Linked DNA regions of Homo sapiens: region 2 is linked to region 1. A link means that fine-mapping ties the variant in region 1 to the expression of a gene that starts in the linked region. Tissue or cell type: prefrontal cortex. Region 1 holds a variant in brackets; the other region holds the start of a gene. All regions are shown on one strand. Distances are from middle to middle.

Evidence for each region. PIP is the estimated chance that this variant, and not a neighbour inherited with it, causes the effect.
Region 2: KIF15 starts here. The variant in region 1 is fine-mapped to the expression of KIF15 in prefrontal cortex (ROSMAP, PIP 0.95).

What each region holds. Positions count from the first base shown.
Region 1 is chr3:44,803,549-44,811,809 of GRCh38, forward strand. KIF15 (kinesin family member 15) reads left to right here. Exons shown (of 35, transcript NM_020242.3): 15 at 1,479-1,620; 16 at 2,297-2,438; 17 at 7,298-7,495. Among named protein-coding and RNA genes, the nearest start is that of KIF15, 46 kb to the left of the region's middle. The variant A/T (reference allele first, on the strand shown) is at 5,062.
Region 2 is chr3:44,758,514-44,766,561 of GRCh38, forward strand. It overlaps KIF15 (kinesin family member 15), which reads left to right and starts at 3,281. Exons shown (of 35, transcript NM_020242.3): 1 at 3,281-3,371. The coding sequence starts at 3,353. KIAA1143 reads right to left here and starts at 3,106. Exons shown (of 3, transcript NM_020696.4): 1 at 2,982-3,106. The coding sequence starts at 3,089. RefSeq lists enhancers at 1,619-2,261, 3,052-3,331.

The DNA of each region.
Region 1 (8,261 bases):
GTCTTGACAGCTGTTGGTGTTCATACCCTGGGATTTGGTAACAAAGTCTGTGTTTGCCCCAGTCTTAGAGTTAATATTTTCACGGTCTTTTATCATAGACTTGGCCTTGGTTTCCTTTTAGGTTGAAATTGAAAAAGTTCTAATGTTTTTATTCTGCATTCATAAAGAAGACTGTCTCTTTGCTTTTTAAAATTTCATTTTTTAAGCCTTCTTCCATTCTGTTATGACTGAATAGAATAATAAGAGTCACAGTAACTGGGTTGGGGAGAGACTTAAGATATTAGATGCAAAATTACTATCAGGTTTTCTGTTGTTTTTTTTGAGATGGAGTCTCACTCTGTCACCCAGGCTGTAGTGCAGTGGTGCGATCTCGGCTCACTGCAACCTCCACCTCCTGGATTCAAGCAATTCTCCTGCCTCAGGCTCCCTCCTGGGATTACAGTCACACACCACCACACCGAGCCAATTTTTGTATTTTTGGTAGAGATGGGGTTTCACCATGTTGGCCAGGCTGGTCTTGAACTTCTGGCTTCAAATGATCCACCCACTTCGGCCTCCCAAAGTGCTGGGATTACAGATGTGAGCCCCAACGCCTGACTTAGGTTTTCTGTTTTATTTAAACTACTTTTCCCTACAGTGCCCTTTATTTTGTTGGCCATTTTGTTGTGGCCTCCATAATACCTTGACTTACTCCCTTCAGAAGATACTAATGTCTGGATCTCATCAGTTTCTAAACATTGATCATTCTCTAAACAACTTTTACATGATCTTTTCCCACACTGAAACTCAGTGGACTCTCTTCAACATATTCAGTGTTCTAGGCATTTCCTGAAAATTAATATTTTCTACCTGATAGATGATACCGGGTTCTTACAACCTGCTGCCCTTGCTATTTGTTTCCTTTTCTAAATAATTCCTTGGCTGTTAACATTAGCTGCTAGCACTAATTCCTACAAGATTCACTGGCTGCTGTTTCTCTGTCTAGCATTAGGCGTGCCACACTTTCGTCATTGTTTGTTCTTTCTCCTAATGGGAAAGGTGTTGCCTTAACTACACTTCTCCATCCTGTGGCATCTGCTTCTTAAACATGACTTCTAATCCCCTTTGGCACACTGTGTCACATCCTGTGCCTTCTGCTGAGTTATAAGCTTTTGTATTTTAGGGCTCGCTTTCCAACCCATTTCTCACTTTTCCTCCTTGTGGCCCAAAATTGATACCTGACAGAGAACTTAGAAAATGTGTCCTGTTATTTTTGCTTGTCAAACACTGAAGTTGTAAAGCTAGGCATGGTGGCATGCACCTGTAGTCCCAACTATTTGGGAGGCTAAAGCAGGGGGTTCACTTGAGACCAGAATTTGGGGCTTTAGTACACTATGATCATGCTTGTGAATAGCCACTGCACTCTAGCCTGGGCAACATAGTGAGGCCCTGTCTCAGAAAAAAAAAAAAAAAGACTGAGATTGTTTTCTTATTAACAGATCAGCAAGGATTTTCACCTAAAGCTCAGAAAGAGCCATGTTTGTTTGCAAACACTGAGAAGTTAAAAGCACAACTCCTGCAAATTCAGACAGAGCTGAATAATTCAAAGCAAGAATATGAAGAATTCAAAGAACTTACTAGGTAAAGTCTAAATACACATGCATGCACACTTATTTTCTTTCAGTGTTCATTTGCTGTAGTGTTAATATCGATAATTCAATTGGGCATTTTACTTTAAATATTAAACTCTCATAGCAGCAACTACTTTGACATGAAGAGAAAGAGCATGCTTCTAGCTCTTTACTAATATATTCAATGAACTAGGTAATACAGGTGTTTTAAGCAGTTTTTTCCTGTTGAGAGTCTATTGAACTTGCATAGTAAATTATTTAAATTTAAATTTGATAATCAGAGTTGTTAAGACTTTTAGGAAGTATAGGTTTGTTAATATTCCTACTTGATTCTCACTATGTAAAAACAAAGATAAATCACATTCATATTATAACTAAGATCAATCTTACCCTAAAATATAAACAAATGTTTGGTTCAAAAATGACATATCACATATGGTATAATCATGGACTATTTGTTTGGGCTTTTGAATTTGAGCCCTACCATTTACTAGTTGAATCCCTTAAACAGTCTCTGAGCTGTAGTTTACTGAACTGGAGAATGATGGGAATAATCTGAGAGAATAGAGAATATCTCTGATTTAGAGATAACTATAAAGTTATGTGAGAGCATAAACTGTAAAGTATTCTATAAATGTTTGACATTACTTATTACCTGAAATACTCCGTTTTACAATATCTATTAGGAAAAGGCAGCTAGAATTGGAATCAGAGCTTCAGTCTTTGCAAAAAGCGAACCTTAATCTTGAAAACCTTTTGGAAGCAACAAAAGCCTGCAAGCGGCAAGAAGTTTCTCAGCTGAATAAAATTCATGCTGAAACACTTAAGGTAGGTCATCTGAACAATACCTCCACCTTAAATCAGTGCAATGTCATTTTATTAATAATGGAGAGAGTCTGCATGGTCTATCTCCAGATGCAGATGACATCCCATGCAGGTAATTAACACCGGTGTCACACTGGTCTTTGGGTTACTGCTAGCAATCCCACTGATGTATCCCCCCAGTGGTAGGGTGGGGTAGGAAAGAATTCAGCATTTGCAATCAAATTCGAATGTGCCATTAACTTTAGTCAGGGTTTCCTAACTTCTGAGCCTTATCTTTCTTTTCTCTAAATTGGAAATGAAGGTAATTTACTTGCAGAGTTTTAGAGTACTAAATGAGATAGATAAGCTGCCTGGTACCTTGTAGATATCAGTAAAATGGCAGCTATTACTACAATATAACATGTCCTCAAAGTTTTCAGTAGAATAGAAACCCTAATGGGCAAAGACCGCTAAGGGATCACAGGTGCCACTGGAAATAACATGAGAGGGTTTTGTCCTAAATAACCACATCCCTCATAAAAGAAAAAAAAATGTGTGAACAACTGAGAATGAGGAGAGAGAAAGGAAGTACACAAGGAAAACAAAAGGTTGAGGAGGTGATACTGATTTCAGCTTTTGTATCCAATTTTTTGAAGGTTAAAAAATTTTTTCCTTAGCTGGGTGTGGTGGTGCAGGCCTGTAGTCCCGGCTGTTTGGGAGGTTGAGGCAAGAGGATTGCTTGAGCCCAGGAATTCAAGTCCAGCTTGAATTCAAGTTCTTTTCTTTTCTTTTCTTTTTTTTAAGACAGAGTCTTGCTCTGTCGGCCAGGCTGGAGTGCAGTGGTGCAATCTCAGCTCACTGCAACCTCCGCCTCCCAGGTTCAAGCGATTCTCCTGCCTCAGCCTCCCGAGTAGCTGGGATTACAGGCGCCTGCCACCATGCCCGGATAATTTTTGTATTTTCAGTAGAGATGGGGTTTCGCCATGTTGGCCAGGCTGGTCTCGAACTCATGACCTCGTGATCTGCCTGCCTCGGCCTCCCAAAGTGCTAGGATTACAGGCAAGAGCCACTGCGCTGGCCTCAAGTTCTTTTCAATAAAAGAAAGAAATAGAGAAGACCGAAAACCTTTCCTTATATGTCTTAGAATATAAATAGATGTTTATTTATAATGATTATTTTTAGTAGTGGTGCTTTTTGTGTCACTTAATGGAAGACTACTTGTATTCATTTGAATAGGTAATTTATGTGACTGAAATTTCCTTTCTTTTCTTTTTTTTTTGAGACGGAGTTTTGCTCTTGTTGCCCAGGTTGGAGTGCAGTGGCACGATCTTGGCTCACTGCAACCTCTGCTTCCTGGGTTCAAGCGATTCTCCTGCCTCTGCCTCCCGAGTAGTTGGGATTCCAGGCGCCTGCCCCAACACCCAGCTGATTTTTGTATTTTTAGTAGAGACGAGGTTTCACCATGTTGGCCAGGCTAGTCTCGAACTCCTGACCTCAGGTGATCCGCCCGTCTCGCCTCCCAAAGTGCTGGGATTATAGGTGTGAGCCACCGCGCCCAGCCTGTGACTGAAATTTTCAAAGGCATTTAGTAGCAAATCTCTTTCCTTCTGTTGTTCTTCCAGCCAACCAAGAACTGGAGGCAATCAGTGTCACCAAGTCAATCAATGTCACCAAGTATTTTCTCACTTTACACAAATGGTGGCATAACATACACATCATTCTACAGCTTGAGGGTGTGTGTGTGTGTGTGTGTGTTTTAAAGCAATATTTTAGAGTTTGTCCCATGTCTGCAGGGGAAAAAATGTTCTCCCCCTTTTTGTTTCTGTTTTGATTTTTTATTTGTTTTGGCAGCAGCTCAAGAATGTTATGTGGATATATAATGATTTATTCAACCTGGAAAATGCTGGGTTTTTTCCTATACAGGTAGAAATTTAAAAATTATTTTTAAATTTTGATTTATTTTATTTATTTATTTTTGGTTTTGTTTTTTAGAGACAGAGTCTTGCTCTGTCACTCAGGCTGGAGTGCAGTGGCATGATCATGGCTCACTGCAGCCTTGAACTCCTGGCTTCAAGTGATCCTCCTGGAGCCTCAGCCTCCCAGAGCACTAGGATTACAGGTGTGAGCCACCATGCCTGACCAGAATTTTTTTTTACTGTTGCTTTTTAAAAAAGGTGGTCTTTGAAGTTTTTGTAAGAAATTATTGAAAAATACTTGCAGAATACTGCCAAATGTTTTATAATTCTGTGTCTGTAGCCCCTTAGCACAATGGAATTATAGAGCTTGAAGCACCACGGCATTCTCGTCCTACTTCTTCCTTTTATGACTGAGCAAACAGGACTCAGAGGATTAGGTTTGCCAGGAGGGGCATAGCAATTCAGAGTCTTTGTTGTTGTTTTAGTTGGACAACTACTATATGAATACATTCTCTTTGTTTAAAAGAAAGACACATATTTCAAGTTAAAGTTAAAATTCCTTTTCAGCATCACTTCCAATCTGGATCTAATATAATCCTTTGTCCCCACAATCCCTGGAGGTAGTTTAATCCTTTTTCTTAGCATTTTTGTACTGTTAATATATACAGACTGAGAAAACACATAGAGTTGTTTCCTAGATTGTGTATTGTTTTGCTTTTTTTTTTTTTTTT[A/T]AAAAAAAACGGTCATTCTTCATGTGTTATTCCACAATATGCTTTTGTTAACTCAGGGATATGCCTTAGATCTTTCCACATTAACTGGTACCTAGAGCCTCATTTGGATGTGAGGCTCAAGGAATATGAGCCTCATACCAGTTAACGTGAGGCTCAAGGGTTATGAGCCTCATACCAGTTAATGTGGAAAGATCCAAGGCATCTCCTTTGAGGGACAGAAGAATTATAGAGCTTGAATTATAGAGCTTGAAGCACCATGAGGGATATCCCCTTGGGGGATATGCCTTGGATCTTTCCATATTAACTGGTACCTACCTCATTTTAACCCTAGGTTTCTATGGCTTAAGTAGATGGTTTCCAGTGCGTGCATTCTCTGGGGGTGGATTCCGTTAAAGGAGAAGTGGTCATTTTAGGATGTCTTAGCATTTGAGTGAGTCAAGCTGAAGCTCCCTCCTAGTGCCCTGTTCCCGCAGCATAGATGCATAGATGCACTCCTTTCCCAGCACTGTCCGCAGGAACTGGGATTGTCATGCTTGTTAATGTTTGACCATCTGATGGGTAAAAAATGAGATCTTGTTGTTAAGGTTTTAATTCTCATTTCTCTAATTTCAAATATCTTTTCATATGTTCATGTCCATTTGTATATCCTATTCCCTGAAAAGAAAAACTATTGTTTTTTTATATTTTTCTTCAGATTTTGTTTTTATGTAATAAGCATTTGTTTGTTAGGTGTACTGCCAATATATTCCTCCATCATGTTGCTTGTCTTTCATCTTTGCATGTGATGCTTTTGTTATATAGAAGTTTTATATTTTTGATGTAGCCAGGTTTATTGACCTTTTATCTTTATGACTTTTTTGCCTTTAATTTTGCTTTACATTGAGGTGTTTGTGTATCCACTGTTTTTCTTTTGAATGGTATGAGAAAGGGATTTAACTTAAAAAAAGTAATACAGCTAGGCATAGTGGCTCACACCTGTAATCTTAACACTTGGGGAGGCAGAAGCAGGAGGATTGCTTGAATCTAGGAGTTCAAGACCAGCTTGGGCAACATAGTAAGACCCTACCTCTGCAAAAAAAAAAAAAATTTAAATTAGCCAAGCATGGTGGTGTGCACCTTTGGTCTCAACTACTCCTGATACCTAAAATTTCCACAGAAAGATTATTCTATTTCTGGGCGGGGTGTGGTGTCTCACGCCTGTAATTCTAGCACTTTGGGAGGCCAAAGCGGGCAGATCACTTGAGGCCAGGAGTTGGAGACCAGCCTGGCCAACATGGTGAAACCCCATCTCTACTAAAACTACAAAAATTAACCAGGCATGGTGGTGTGTGCCTGTAGTCCCAGCTACTTGGGAGGCTGAGGCAGGAGAATTGCTTGAACCTGGGAGGCAGAGGTTGTGGTGAGCCAAGATTACACCACTGCACTCCAGCCTGGGCAACAGAACAAGACTGTGTCTCAAAAAATAATAATAATTCTATTTCTGGACTTTGTATTTCCTCCCAGTGTTCTATTTGAATGTACATAAGCTAATGTACTGTTTTAATATAATGTACTGTAATGTAATGTACTATTTTAATGACCATACTCCCATACCCCTATGTATTTTTATATCAGATGGGGAAGTCTTCCTAATTTGTTCTTTTTATTTTTATTTTTTTGAGAGACAGGGTCTCAGTCTGTCACTCAGGCTGGAGTGCAATGGTGTGATAATAGCTCACTGCAACCTAGAACACCTGGGCTCTGGGGATCCTCCTGCCTCAGCTTCCCAAGTAGCTGGGACTACAGGCCTGGGACACCATGCCCAGCTAATTAAAATGATTTTTTTTTTTGGTAGAGACAGGATCTCACTATGTTGCCCAGCCTGGTCTTGGACTCCTGGCCTCAAGTGATCCTCCCCTTCTCAGCCTCCCACGGTGTTGGGATTATAGCCATGAACCACCATGCCTGGCTTGTTCTTTTTAATTGTCTTGTCTCTTCTTGTACATTTATTCTTTGTATGAAAATAGATATCAGCTCATTAAGTTTATTTTTAAAAATTGTATTAGAATTTTGCTTGGGACTGCATTGAATTGATAAATTTATTTCCACTTGGGCATTTTTGTACTGTGTCTCAAGGGTACTTTTTCCTTTCTTTTCATGAATAGTATTTCAATTTTATCCTCTCTATTCACAAAATTATTAAATATGCCCTTTTTAAATATGTGCTAATGTTTTCCATAATCATTTTTTGCTGCAGATTATAACTACACCAACCAAGGCCTACCAACTTCATTCCCGACCAGTACCAAAATTAAGCCCTGAAATGGGAAGCTTTGGCTCTCTATACACTCAGAATTCTAGCATATTAGATAATGATATATTAAATGAGCCAGTTCCTCCTGAGATGAATGAACAAGCTTTTGAGGCCATTTCTGAAGAGCTTAGAACAGTGCAGGTAATGTTTTGTTCTAGAAAAAATAAATAACTGGACATCCATTTAAATACATTTGCTTTGTTATTTTAATTCCCTATAAGTTACAGTGTTCAAAAGTGCTTAGTATTAAAATCATATCTTTTTAAGTGTGGGTTTATAATCATTCCTAGATTGGAAATCAGCCCACTCTTGCTTTTTGTCTCTACTTTACAATCTTTAGCAAGTCATTCTCCATGGGTTTTTGTTCCTTAGTGTATAAAATGACCAGTTGGCCACTAGCTCCAAGTTCCAGAACTGGTTTATATAGCAAAGTGCTGTATCTGCTAAAAAAAGTTAAAAGAGGCCGGGTGCGGTGGCTCACGCCTGTAATCCCAGCACTTTGGGAGGCTGAGGCAGGCATATCACGTGAGATCAAGAGTTTGAGACTAGCCTGACCAACATGGTGAAACCCCGTCTCTACTAAATAGACAAAATTAGCCGGGTGTGGTGGTACATGCCTGTAATCCCAGCTACTCGGGAGGCTGAGGCAGGAGAATTGCTTGAACCCGGGAGGCGGAGGTTGCAGTGAGCCGAGATCGCGCCACTGCACTCTAGCCTGGGCAACAAGAGTGAAACTCTGTCTCAAAAAAAAAGAAAGTTAAAAGAATCTTATTATAGATCAAATTTTAGACAGTTTTTAATATATTTGAAATAATGTGAAATTTGATTATTCCAGAATTTTTATGGTTTGTTAATTTTTTAAAAAGGTTTTCTACTGTCCAGTAAAAGTTGGAGTGGGCCAGACCAC
Region 2 (8,048 bases), 45 kb before region 1:
TTTGCTCATCAATAAGAAGCAACTCATCTGTTCAATTTTTATGAGACTGCAACAACTTAGTCACATTTTCAGGCTCTACTTCTAATTCTAGTTCTTTTGCTTGTTCTACCACACCTGCAATTACTTCCTCCACTGAAGGCCTGAATCTCTCGAAGTCATCCATGAAGGTTGGAATCAACCTCTTCCAAATTCCTGTTAATGTTGATATTTTGCCCTCTTCCCATGAATCATGGATGTTCTTAACGTGTTTAGAATGGTGAAGCCTTTCCATAAAGTTTTCAATTTACAATATCCAGATGCATCAGAGGAATCACTATCCATGGCAGCTGTAGCCTTACAAATGGTTTTGACTTTTTTTTTTTTTTTTGAGACAGGGTCTGGCTCTGTTACCCAGGCTCGAGTGCAGTGGTGCAATCATGGCTGACTGCAGCCTCAACCTACCTGGGGTCAGGGAATCCTCCCACCTCAGCCTCCCAAGTAGCTGGGACCACAGGTGCATGCCACCACACTGGGCTAAATTTTGTATTTTTTGTAGAGATGGGGTCTCACCATGTTGGCCAGGCTGGTCTTGAACTCCTGGGCTCAAGCAATCCACCTGCCTTGACTTCCCAAAGTGCTGGGATTACAAGTGTGAGCCATTGCGCCTGGCTGTTATTTCTTAAATAATAAGACTGAAAATAGAAATTACTCCTTGATCCATGGGCTGCAGAATGGATGTTGTGTTAGCAGGCATGAAAACCCCACGTTAATCTCCTTGTAGATCTCCATCAGAGTTCTTGGGTGACCAAGTGTATTGTCCATGAGCAATAATATATTGAAAGAATCTTTTTTTTTCTGAGCAGTAGGTCTCAACAGTGGGCTAAAAATAATTCAGTAAACCATATTATAAAGAGATGTGCTGTCATCAAGGTTTTGTTTTTCCATTTCTAGAGCACAGGCAGAGTAGATTTAGCATAATTCTTACGGACCCTAGGATTTTTGGAATGGTAAGTATTAGCTTCAACTTAAAAGTCACCAGCTGCATTAGCTCCTAATGAGAGAGTTAGCCTGTCCTTTGAAAATATGAAGCCAGGCACTGACTTCTCTCTAGCTATGAAAGTCCTAAATGGCCCAGGCATAGTGGTTTTTGAGAGGCTTTGAGAGGCTAAAGTGGGAGGATTGCTTGAGTCCAGGAGTTTGAGACCAGCCTTGGCAACACAGTGGAATCCTGTCTCTACAAAAAAATACAAAAATTAGCCAGATGCGTTAGTTCATGCCTGTAGTCCCAGCTGCTTGAGAGGCTGAGGCAGGAGGATCACTTGAGCCCAGGAGGTCAAGGCTGCAGTGAGCTGTGATTGCACCACTGCACTCTAGCCTGGGCGACAGAGTGAGACCCTATCTCAAAAAAAAAAAAAAAAAAAAAGTCCTAGATGGCATCTTCTTCCAATAGAAGGCTGTTTCATCTACATTGAAAACCTGTTTAGTGTAGCCACCTTCATCAACTATCTTAGCTAGATCTGAATAATTTGCTTCTTCATCTCATACTTTTATGTTATGGAGATGGCTTCTTTCCTTAAACCTCATGAACCAACCTCTGTTAGCTTCACACTTTTCTTCTGCAGCTTTCTCACATGTCTCAGACTTCACAGGATTTAAGAGTTAGGGCCTTGCTCTAGATTAGGCTTTGGTTAAAGGGAATGTTGTGGCTGGTTTGCTCTTCTATCCAGACCACTAAAACTTTCTCTGTATCAGCAATGTAGCTGTTTTGCTTTCTTGTCATTCATGTGTTCAATACTGATCCCTCCGGCCCTAGACAACAATAGTCAGGTGTGGCTCTTTCCTGAAGCTCCTCTTCTTCTATTTAGACCCAGGATATTTACGGCTTCTGCTTACTCTTCTTTTTTTTCTTTTTTTTGAGACGGAGTCTCGCTCTGTCGCCCAGTCTGGAGTGCAGTGGCGCGATCTCGGCTCACTGCAAGCTCCTCCTCCTGGGTTCACGCCATTCTCCTGCCTCAGCCTCCCGAGTAGCTGGGACTACAGGCGCCCGCCACCATGCCTGGCTAATTTTTTGTATTTTTAGTAGAGACGCGGTTTCACTGTTTTAGCCAGGATGGTCTCGATCTCCTGACCTCGTGATCTGCCGCCTCAGCCTCCCAGAGCGCTGGGATTACAGGCGTGAGCCACCAGGCCCGGCTTTTTTTTTTTTTTTTTGAGACGGAGTCTCGCTCTGTTGTCCAGGCTGGAGTGCAGCTGCGCCATCTCAACTCACTGCAACGTCCACCTCCCGGGTTCGAGCGATTCTGTCTCAGCCTCCGGAGTAGCTGGGACTACAGGCATGTGCCACCATGCCCGGCTAATTTTTGTATTTTTAGCAGAGACGGGGGGTTTCACCATATTGGCTATTGGCTCTGCTGGTCTCGAACTCCTGACCTCAGGTGATCCGCCCACCTAGGCCTCCCAAAGTACTGGGATTACAGGCGTGAGCCACTGTGCCCGACCTTCTCTATATTATTTTTATTTATTTTTAATTAACAAAGCATAGAAACAGATTCAGGACATTCCTCCGAAGACGTTCCAGACTCGAGTCCTAGGACATGGTTGGGGCGGGGGTCATTTGATCGAGTGGCCTGTGTCCTTATCTGGAATACGGGACGACGCTGTAACTCTAACTCACCCTGCGAACTCACAGCTTTTGAGGTAAACAAGTGAGAAAGAAGAGACAATAAAGTGATCTTTCTTTACCATCTACCAAGGACCAGGTGGTTTACACGTCAGTTCATTTTCAGGAACACAGCAGCGCTCTGAAAACTACAGAGCTTCCTGGGCGTAGGGGGCTGTGGTCGCTTGAAAAGAACCAGCCTGGGGGTCCGAGTTCCACCGGAATTGGGTTCGAGCGCGGGTGAAAAGAGGGACCCGACAGCACCCACCCTCCAAGTAGAGGCAAAAGTTGAAAGTGGCGGGCTGGCTGCGCTTCCGAAGAAACACGACTGGCGAAGGCTCACCTTAGTCTCTACGGTGGGTCCCTCCCTGTAGCCGACCCGTTCCTTGAAGCGGGCCAGAAACGCCGGCTCGGCTGGCCGCACGTACGATACCTGGTTCCGCTTGCTCATGGTAGCTCTGGGTAAAGACAGAAGACAGGTTCCGCGACGGATTCGCGACGATACAGAGGCGCTTAGCTGTGACGTCACTGGGCCACGCCCCCGATGCGTAGGCCGGGCAACATGGCGGCCTCCATGCGGGCGTCAACGTCCGATCCAAGCGCCAAATTCAAATTTGCGGCCATCTTGAGCGGGCGGAATTCAGTCGCGCGCGGTGCAGTCGGGAGGTGGAGGCACCGGCTGCATTGTTTTCGGGATCGAGGGGTGAGGGCGCTATGGCACCCGGCTGCAAAAGTAAGTCTGGGCCCCCGGCTTCGTTACCCTATTTTTGCCCCCAAATACAGCTGTGAAAGGATGGCAGCCTCGGACCGCCCGCAAGGTTCTTGCTAGGCATGAACTGCAGGAGCTGAGTGACCGGCGGGGACGTTTGGGAATCCCGCTCTGTCGCTCAAAGACAATACGCTAGCCGAAAAGCTCATCCCTTCCTTCAGTGTCCTGTGCGCATGCCAGGAGTCTGGCGCAGTTCTAGGCGCTCGGGATGAGCAGTGGACCTGACGTTCTTCCCTTTCTTTCCCTTGGTTCTGCTGTTTCTTCGCAGGCCTCTTCCCACATCCCGACCAGGGCTACCTCTCTAGATATCCTTGTCTCAGGATCGGCTTTTGCTCCCACCAGCTTCTGCGTATTTCTACATTTCTGACCTTCCTATAGGGAAGGGTTTATTTATATTCCAAACATTTCTTTCTCCTCTTTCCTTAAATAAATGGAATGTTAAAACACAGATGTCAGCAATGTCTTTATGTTCTCACAGTCTCTATTTTCACTTAAAGGAGACCCGTCCGATTTCTTTCTCTTTTTCACGGAGGAGAGCACTGTCATTTTGCTTATGATAAACCCTACAGTTTTCACTAACGTAGTCATTTGCTGTGCCTGTGTACGTGCTCCACTTCTCACATTGCCACATCTCTTAAGGAGTCTTATTTTTGTAAACCTGATTATGAGCTGATTTAATGGGATCTTTGTGAGTGGTCTGAATGGTAATGAGGAGAGGCCTGGATTAGATGATTAAGAATTTGTGAACTTCTGTCATTTGAGCTTTCCAACGCCGTTAATGTTTCTAGCTTTCTGTCAATTGTAGTCGTTTTTGATGGGTTTGTTGTTTCATTAATCTTTTAGGTCGATCACACCTAATCGGAACACCTCCTTATGCTACCTTTTTGCATATAAAATATTCCTTTTCCTTTCATCATTTTCAGTATTCAAGGACTATGAGCTCACAAAATGGTACCTTATTGGAGAGAAATGTTCATCCTGCTTTCTGAACAATCATACTGTTTGTTCTTTGTTTCCACTTTATGGATCAGTCACTAAATCTGGACTCAAGCAAAAAATTTGATGCCTGTTAAATAAGTAAAACATCTGCTTATTTAATGAGATATATGTATGTGACTGAGGGCTCTTGTCTGAAAACCAAATTTGAGAACCTTTCTAAAGTGGTGGGAGCACTCTCCTTTATGATGGTGGTGATGCCATGGGGAACTTTTCCACTCCTTTAAGTTTGTTGGCAAAATTGAGGTTGATGACTTCCCAGTTAAAGTGCTTCTTGCATTCCCAGCAGCCCAGAGGCCTGGAGCATGAAGTGGGAACACATGGGAGAAGAGAGCCCGTGCAGTGGTCTTTGCAACTTTTACTTTGTGCCCCGAAGGCTATCTCTCTCTCTCTTTTTTATTTTTGAGACAGAGTCTTGCTCTATTGCCGGGCTGGAGTGCAGTGGTGCGATATTGGCTCACTGCAACCTCCGCCTCCCGGGTTCAAGAGATTCTCCTGCCTGAGTCTCCCAAGTAGCTGGGATTACAGGCACGCGCCACCATGCCCAGCTAATTTTTTTATTTTTAGTAAAGCCGGGGTTTCACTGTGTTGGCCAGGATGGTCTCGATCTCCTGACCTCGTGATTTGCCCACCTTGGCCTCCCAAAGTGCTGGGATTACAGGCATGAGCCACCACACCCGGCCCCATGAAGGCTATCTCTAGTGACATCATTGACACCATGAGTTGCTGACTGTGAAATCAGAGAAATGAAAAAGTGAAATATACGATTCCCCCCTTTTTTTTTTTAAAGACAGTGTTGCTCTGTCACCCAGGCTGGCTGGAGTGCAGTGACGCAATCTTGGCTCACTGCAATCTCCACCTCCTGGGTTCAAGCAGTACTCGTGCCTCAGCCTCCCAAGTAGCTGGGACTACAGGCGTGCACCACCATGCCCTGCTAATTTTTTGTATTTTAGTAGAGACAGGGTTTCACCATGTTGCCCAGGCTGGTCTTGAACTCCTGAACTCAAGCAATCCACCTGCCTTGGCCTCCCAAAGTGCTAGGATTACAGGCGTGAGCCACTGCACCTGGCCTAAGATTCCCTTTCTGAACCCAATCATGTTTGGGCAAATGACTGATGAGTATTTATCTAGACTGCAGAGTAAAGCATCCAATGGTCTGTTTTAAAGCAGGAAGACTCTTTAAAAGACTTACTGTTTTGTTGAGGTATAGCTTCATGCAGTTAAGGGCACAAATCTTAATATTATTCAACAAATTTTTACATATAAATACACTAATGTAACCACCATCCAGATCAAGAAATAGAACTGTTCCTGTACTCCAGAAAGTTCCCTGTGACCCTTCCTAGTCAATAACTACCTGATCCCCAACCATTACTCTGATTATTATTATCACTGATTAGTTTTGCTTCTATTCTTGAACTTAATATAAATGGTACAGTATGTATTCTTTTTTTATTCTGGTTTCTTCAACTGAACATTATGTCTGTGATCATTGTCCATCATTGTATGTAGCAGCAGTTCTTTTTCATTGCTGTGTAGTGTTCCATTATGTGAGTATACCATGATTTGTTTATTCTCCTGTTGATTGACATTTGGGTTTTTATTATAGTTAGGGCTGTTATGAATAAAGCTACTGAGAATAGACTTAAGCATATTTTTAGATGGACACATAGAGGACCTCAAAGTTGAAAGAATTTTACAGTGAATGCCTATAGACTTCATTTTTTTCTTTTCTTTTTTGAGACAGAGTCTTGCTCTGTCACCCAGGCTGAAGTGCAGGGGTGCGATCTTGGCTCACTGCAACCTCCATCTCTGTTCAAGTGATTACTCCTGCCTCAGCCTCCTGAGTAGCTGGGACTACAGGCAACCACCACCAAGCCTGGCTATTTTTTATATTTTTAGTAGAGGCAGGGTTTCACCATATTGGCAAGGCTGGTCTCAAACTCCTGACCTCAAATGATCCACCCACCTTGGTCTCCCAAAGTGTTGGGATCACAGGTGTGAGCCACTGCACCCAGCCTAGACTTCCTTTAAATGTCAAAATTTTATGACAGCCACATGATAAACTTTTATACTCTCTTTAACCTTTGATCAAGAGGTAGCATATTGAGGTGGTTAAGAGTAGGAGATCTGGATTTAGCATGCCTTCGTTCAAATCCTAGCACTTCTCAATGATGTTTCCTTAGATCTCAATTAGAAATAATGCCAGAACTATCTACATTTGTGTAGTTTTAAATTTCACTTTCTCTCGCTATTTGCTTATTAACTTTTCTTCTTTTTTTATCAAGTAAACATTTTACTTTGGGTTCCTTTTAGATTTACCAGAAAGTTGCACATAAGTGCAGATCAGTATCCATCTAATCATTTTCCATCTGATCAGTTACAGAGATCTCTGCAGAAATGAAGAGCTGGCAGCCTACCTTCTGGGGCTTCTTATTGTTGTTTGCTTGTGTATTTGCTTAGCAACTGGCTGGATCAATTTAGTGAAGTCTATTTCCCTCCTATACTGTTAAGCCTTTGATATTGCTCCTCAGGAATCCAAAGCTCCAGCTTTGGATATGCCCACCTTTATCCTGGGATGACAGTGGTTTTGGTAGGGATCTCTTTCTTTCTATGACTGCACACAGCTGTTAAACTCCAGTAATTGTTAGCTGATTGCTCTATTGTTTTTTAACAATGCCCTGGGCATAAATTGTCTTACAAACTACTTCAATTCTTGCTCCATTGAAGGAGTAGTTTTTGAGGTTTTCTTTCATATTTCTTGTGACTCCAGTGTAGCTACTCCTAATTGTCTTATATCCCCATTGTCTTCTGCAAGTGAACAGGCCTGCAATTTAGCTTGTATCTTGAATGTCTTCCTAATTACTTTCACTAAAACCTACACTGTTCCTGAGAGTGCCCTTAGGTTTGAACTTCTCTCCACCCCCTCTCCCCCAGACGGAGTCTCGCTCTGTCACCTAGGCTGTACCACAGTGGCGTGGACTCAGCTCACTGCAACCTCCACCTCCTGAGTTCAAGCGATTCTCCTGCCTCAGCCTCCCAAGTAGCTGAGATTACAGGCATGTGCCACCATGCCCAGCTAATTTTTGTTTTGTATTTTTAGTAGAGAGACGGGGTTTCACCATGTTGGTCAGGCCGGTCTCAAACTCCTGACCTCAAATGATCTACCTGCCTCGGCCTCCCAAAGTGCTGGGATTACATCATGAGCCACCACACCTAGACAGGTTTGAACTTCTCTATGCTTTGTTGCAAATGAATTCAGCTCCTTTGGGAAGAGATTAGGAGTTATCTGTTTATGGGCTGATTCTTCCTTTAGGCAAAATCTCAGAGCCTGGGGACTTGAGTTGGGGATGGGGATAATGGCAGTCTTGTCTCTGAGTGATACCCTTTGTAGTTGCTGAGCATTTTGTGGGGAAGGTGGGGAGTGTAGCAGCCCACCTTCTAGACTTTCCTTTCCTTGTGCAGAACCACTGCCTAATGAGTTGGGGCAAGGGTGATCAGGGCCCCAGTGTTCTTAGCATGCAGTTGCAAGATGAGGGCTGTGTGGGAGAAGGGAGAGCCCTCACCTCTCAACCACACTTGTCTGGGACTTTATCTGAGCATCAGGTAGCTAGCTGGAGACACAATGATACACTGACATCCTGC